Regions from separate parts of the Homo sapiens genome. Here region 1 is linked to region 2. Evidence: fine-mapped expression QTL. A gene starts in region 2. The other region holds a variant in brackets. All regions are shown on one strand. Distances are from middle to middle. Region 1 overlaps ANKRD55 (ankyrin repeat domain 55). Region 2 holds the start of IL6ST (interleukin 6 cytokine family signal transducer).

Region 1 (2,909 bases), 160 kb after region 2:
ATCAGACTTTCTTAGTGAAATGCAACCAAACCAAGCACATATTTACTTTAAAATTCCATTGAAAACCAGGTATTTAAATTGATTTTAAGAACCTTGTTAAGGAAATCAGCCTGGCTAAGGAAAATTAGTACTGCATTTTAAAAGAGTTAAGCAGATCTAACAAGACTCTAAGCTACTCTTGGACAGCTCTGCTTAGTGTCTGAGCCACCTTCCCTCAAGAACTTTGTTGAAGAGTGTTGAACGACCTTTTTGGAAGCCTTCTACTTGCAACATGAATTAAACAGCAGTTACGATCACTGGGATTAATAATGTGATGTCTGGAGCAGGTAACCCGGAATTATTAATATTATCTCTCTGTCATCTTTTTCTTTTCTTTTTGGAGGGGAGGGGGACAGGATGTCACTCTGTCACCCAGGCTAGGGTGCAGTGATGTGATCATATCTCACTGTAACCTTGAACTTCTGGGCTCAAGTGATCCTTCTGCCTCAGCCTCCAGAGTAGCTGGGACTATAGGCATGTGCCACCACACCCAGCTACTTTTTAAACTTTTTGTAGAAATGGAGTCTCGCTCTGCTGCCCAGGCTGGTCTCAAACTCCTGGGTTCAAGTGAGCCTCCCACCTTGGCCTCCCAGAGCACTGGGATTACAGGCATGAGCCAGTGTCCAGTCTTGTCATTGTTTTCCTTTTTCTTTCTTTTTTTTCTTCAGAGAGGGGGGTCTCACTTTGTTGCCAGGCTGGACTCTCAAACTTCTGGGCTCAAGTGATCCTCCCACCTCAGCCTCCTGAGTAGCTGTGACCACTGGCACGCGCCACTACACCCACCTCTCTGCCATCTTACACGAGAGAGCATGTCTTAGGCTGAGTGCAGTGGCTCATGCCTGTAATCCCAGCACTTTGGGAGGCCGAGGCAGGCAGATCACCTGAGGTCGCGAGTTTGAGACCAGCTTGACCAACACGGAGAAACCCCATCTCTACTAAAAGTACAAAATTAGCCGGGTGTGGTGGCGCCTGCTTGTAATCCCAGCTACTGGGGAGGTTGAGGCAGGAGAATCACTTGAATCTGGGAGGCGGGGGTTGCGGTGAGCCAAGACGGTGCCACTGCACTCCAGCCTGGGCAACAAGAGCGAAACTCCATCTTAAAAAAAAAAAAAGAGAGCACGTCTTGAGCCACCGCTTGCTACTAAGTTTCTGGGACTTGAGAAGACAGGAGAGAGCAATATTTATTTCTCAATGTCCAGAGGGAAGTTACAAAATTTCAGTCGTATGATAAATGCTGAAGTACTTAATGCAATAAAGTCCTTCCCTATCAGAAGCTACACACACCCATGGTGGGGATAAGTTTCTGCTGAGGATTAATAGTGAAAACAGGTCTCCCTTTCAGGGTAGGAACACAGAACCATGCCTCATGTCTCCCCGTAGCTTTTAAGAGGAAGCACAATGGTTCAGAAACGCCCTTCCTTTCACCCTCACATGCAAAATGACCACTTGTTGCTT[G/C]AGAGTGTGGCTCACCTCATTGTCCTGGTGATTAATCTCGCTGATGTTCGACTGTTGCAACAGGACCGTGAGGAGCCTGTAAGGAAAAAATAGGAGAAATGGCTCAAAATAACAGGCAGTCACGGTGCTCTTGGAATCGGTATAAAAACATGACCTTAGAAAAACCGTCAGTTGAAAGACTCCAAATGAAGATGAGGGCCCTTTCCGTTTCTCTGGGAAAAAGATCCACAGAAAAGAAGCAAGAGTGTGATAGGTTAGAAGACACCTGTGTGGAGGGCTACTGTCTGCCTCTCCCACCCTCTCTTCATCTCAGCACTCCCGAGGGGCACAAGGGGATGGAGAAACTTTAGGCTCATTGTGTTCACCAGGCCTCTGTCTCCTAGCCATGCCCTTTAAGATCCAAAATCATGTAGCAATTATTATTATGATTTTTTTCTTTGAGATGGAGTCTCGCTCTGTTGCCCAGGCTCGAGTGCAGTGGCACGAACTTGGCTCACTGCAAGCTCCGCCTCCCGGATTAGCACCATCCTCCTGCCTCAGCCTCCCGAGTAGCTGGGACTACAGGCGCCCCGCACCACGCCCTGCTAATTTTTTCTATTTTTTAGTAGAGACGGGGTTTCACCGTGTTAGCCAGGATGGTCTGGATCTCCTGACCTCGTGGTCCGCCCGCCTAAGCCTCCCAAAGTGCTGGGATTACAAGTGTGAGCCACCGTGCCCGGCCACTTATTCTTTATTCTTTATACACACATGCCTAAGCACAAGATTCACTTTATAGAAACTTACAGAGTGCTTTCGACCTGCTTCACTCCTAGCTGCATATGTCATGCCTTTTTAATGCATAGATTATACCAGGAGGTTGTCAGTATTTGCAAGTTTGCTCATTCTTTGTAAAATACACACATGCCTAAGCACAAGATGACAGTAATCAGTGTAAAACAGCTATCAATGATTCTCAGATTCAGGCTCTTACCTGACTTGGATCTCCTGCTCAGTTGACTGAAGTCAACGCTCCATCTGGGAGAGGGGGGCAGCCGAGCATAGTGGAGAGGGGCCCGGGCTCTGCAGCCAGATGGCTTGGGTTTACATCCCAGCCCTGCCACTGATGAGCTCTGTGACCTCAGGCAAGTTACTTACCTTCTTCCTGCCTAAACTTCCTCATCTGTGAGATAGGAGTGATAAAAACTACCTATCACACAGCTCAGTGTGAGGATTAAATGAGTTAATATGCATACAACATATAGAGCATGCCTGGAACATGCTGTTATTTCTAGAGTGCTTAACCCCAGAAGTTTGGACCCTGGCTCCATCTCAGAATTGCCTGGAGAGATTTTTTTTTTTTTTAAACCACAAATACCTGGACTCTGTACTCAGGGTTTCTAACTCAGTAGGTCTGGAGAAGCCCAGCTTCTACTGTT
Region 2 (2,909 bases):
AATTGCCTGTGAGAAAATTAAACTGGTATTGTCAATACATACTTAAAATAAGAAAAAAATCCCACTACAGTCTGTCCTTTTTGACACTTTCTCCTTCCTGTAATTTTTTTCTTTCACTCAAGATTAAAAACAAACGTTCAAGATTATCCCTAAAGAGAAATAGTTGGAAAGCACAATTTAATAGCAAGTTGGTTCTATAAATGTAATATTTCAGTTCATAGTTCAAAAATACTTCCAAATAGGAATTAACATGAATTTAAGAAATTAACATAATGGCACACAGCTAAACTGATGATCTGAGTCCGTAATTTCAAATTAAGAGTTGTTCCAACTTGAAGCTGGCAGTCATACACAGTTTAAAGGGTTTGTTTACAGCACTGTCAAAAGCAAATACCACAATCTTTCAGAAAATTCACCCTGGCATTCTAATAACTAGTTATTTTAAGGCAGTATAATTGTTGAAATACTTCACAAACTAAGCCAAAATGCGTTTCCTTCTGAAGGCAAAAAAAAAAAAAAAAAAAAAAGGTGACGTCTTATTTTTAACCTGTGATTTTTTTTTTTTTTCAGTTTCGGATTATGAAATAAAATGCTGTTCATCCACTGAAGAACAGACCCTTGCTTCCTGCACTATCTTCAAAAGTTTAGGTCGGAGGAGGTAAAATTTTAAAAACTGATTTGTTCTCCTTGGGATACAGTGAGATGTGGAATTCGTTAGGAATGATAATTATTAATAGAAAAGATCAAAAGAAGGAAAGAAACGTTAATAGTGTTTATAAGCATTGTGAACTTTCAACAAAGCTGAAACGTTACGATTTCAAGATGAAAAAACGGCTTTGGGGAAGGGAAATCCACCTCGAGAATGAAGACAAGTGCGGAGCGAATAGAATTTCAGGGGAGATGAAAAGGGGATTGGGAAAAACGTGGGATCTGGTAACAAAAAGGGGGGTTTGTTCTTGAAGGGCGTTCTGCGGGGCGGGCGTTAAGAGGGGTGCGTGCGTGCGCCTGGGTGAAGTTTGTACTCAGGGCTGCGATAATCGAGGTGACAAAGTTGTGGAAGTAGAATTCGGAGGTCCGGGAGCAGGAAGGGGAAGGAATGTGGGGATTTCCAGGCTGGGCTGACAAGTTCCGGGCGCTGCTCTCAGGGGGAAGGGAGGTCTCCTCGAGTGCCAGATAGCCCGTCCGAAACCACCGACACTCTAACTCCAGCTACGCGACCCAGCACCCGGCCCCTCCTCACCTCAGGCCGCGCCGCCTCGACCCTCCGCGTCTCCACAGCGCACGAACCCCTTGGCGCCAGGCTGGGCCAGACCCGTCGGCCTGGCAGGCGCGGCCCCCGGTTCAGCTGCGCCGGGGCGGCCCAGCGCGACTCCGCGGGCCTTTTGGCTGCTCGCCCCGGCTCCGGAACACTGTCAGATCCTTCTCCGCAGAGGTAGCGCGCCACCCCAGTCCCGCGGCGGGGCGGGGCGCTCCCCAATCCCGCCCAGCTGCGCCCCCGGCCGGCCAACGCTGCGCCCCGCCCCCTACCGGGACCTAGGCGCTGATTGGCCCCTGAGAGACCCTTTGCGCCCAGGCATTGGTCCAGTGGCCGCCTGTCGACGAGGGGGCGGGACTCCGAGGGGTAGCGATTCCCGTAACGCGGCTCTTCGCGTCCCGGATTCCGGTGGCTGCGTCCGCGTCGCCTCTCCCAGACTAGATCGAAGGGTTCCCCCCACCTCCCCTCTGTGGGCGGAAAGAGCGGAATGTTCCATTTTTCTGTGGAATAACGGGGTCATGAACTGGAGCCCGGGTGCTGCCCGCCGCCCGCTGCCCCCGCCCTCCCTTCTCGCCAGGGCGCCTGCGGCCTCTCTTCGCGGCCTTCCCCGAGGGACTCAGAGCCGCGAGGGACCGCCTAGCTCCCTTGGGGATGGGGAAGGCGTGGGAGCCTCTTGGGGAAAGTGAAGAGCTCGGTGGCCGTGACTCCGCACGAGACTGCGGCAGATTGTGGCGGCGGCTTCTCTCCAAGACTTACGTAAACGAGCCTTGCCACAGTACTTTTTTAAATTAGTAAATGAGTTTGGGTGCGATTGATCAGTGAGCCCCAGAGGTGGTGGCCCACCAAGCGACTAGTGTTTCTTTGCGGTTTGTACCTCCCCGTTTATGATAAAAAATACCGGGTAAAAACCTATTCATCCCGCCTCCGCCCCCCCCTTTCCCTCAGAAAATGGACCTCAAGGCTCATGATGTTTGTTTCTCCCCAAAGGAAGATGAGAATCTTGAGTTAAAAGATAAGGCATGTGCGTGCGTGCGTGTGGGGTGTGTGCGTGGGTGTCTGTAAAAGTAAACACCCAAAGGTAGAGGTTTTTGTGGAAGAATGAGAGGATATAGGAAGGAAATAATGGTTTAATGAACTTAAATTATATCCATAAATTAACAATTATAAAGTTCTTCATTATATTGAGGATTCAGATAGAGTAAAACATAGATCGAATTTTAATCTCTTAGTTGTTGATCAGATAATTTATAAAAGGGCAAAGTGGGCCTGCTAACGGAGTCGCAGGCAAAGTAGATGGTGCTGCAGCTGATGTGTTCAGCTCTTGCTCCTCCCTGTCATCCTATATCTAACCTATAGATTGTGACCAGATTCTGTTCTAGCTTTGCCATTTAGAGGGGTGTTTATTTTAAAACAAATTTTTATAAAAATTTGTTAAATTGAAAATTTTGTATAGATCCAGGAAACTTGATTTTTTTGTTGTTGTTCACAGTCTCACTCTGTCACCCAGGCTGGAGTGCAGTGGCTGGATCATGCTCACCGCACGTTCAAATTCCTGGGCTCTAGCGATCCTCCCACCTCAACCTCCCAAGTATCTCAGACTACAGGTGCCCCTACAATACCTGGCCAATTTTTAAAATTTTTGGAGAGACAAGAT

Evidence for each region. PIP is the estimated chance that this variant, and not a neighbour inherited with it, causes the effect.
Region 1: its variant is fine-mapped to the expression of IL6ST in whole blood (INTERVAL, PIP above 0.99).

Annotation. Positions count from the first base shown.
Region 1 is chr5:56,158,324-56,161,232 of GRCh38, forward strand. It overlaps ANKRD55 (ankyrin repeat domain 55), which reads right to left. Exons shown (of 12, transcript NM_024669.3): 6 at 1,510-1,570. Among named protein-coding and RNA genes, the nearest start is that of ANKRD55, 74 kb to the right of the region's middle. RefSeq lists an enhancer at 1,741-2,536. The variant G/C (reference allele first, on the strand shown) is at 1,495.
Region 2 is chr5:55,993,544-55,996,452 of GRCh38, forward strand. IL6ST (interleukin 6 cytokine family signal transducer) reads right to left here and starts at 1,420. Exons shown (of 17, transcript NM_002184.4): 1 at 1,241-1,420. It overlaps IL6ST-DT (IL6ST divergent transcript), which reads left to right and starts at 1,624. Exons shown (of 2, transcript NR_102755.1): 1 at 1,624-2,011. RefSeq lists cis regulatory regions at 188-2,506, 1,200-1,873, a silencer at 1,151-1,630 and an enhancer at 1,462-1,973.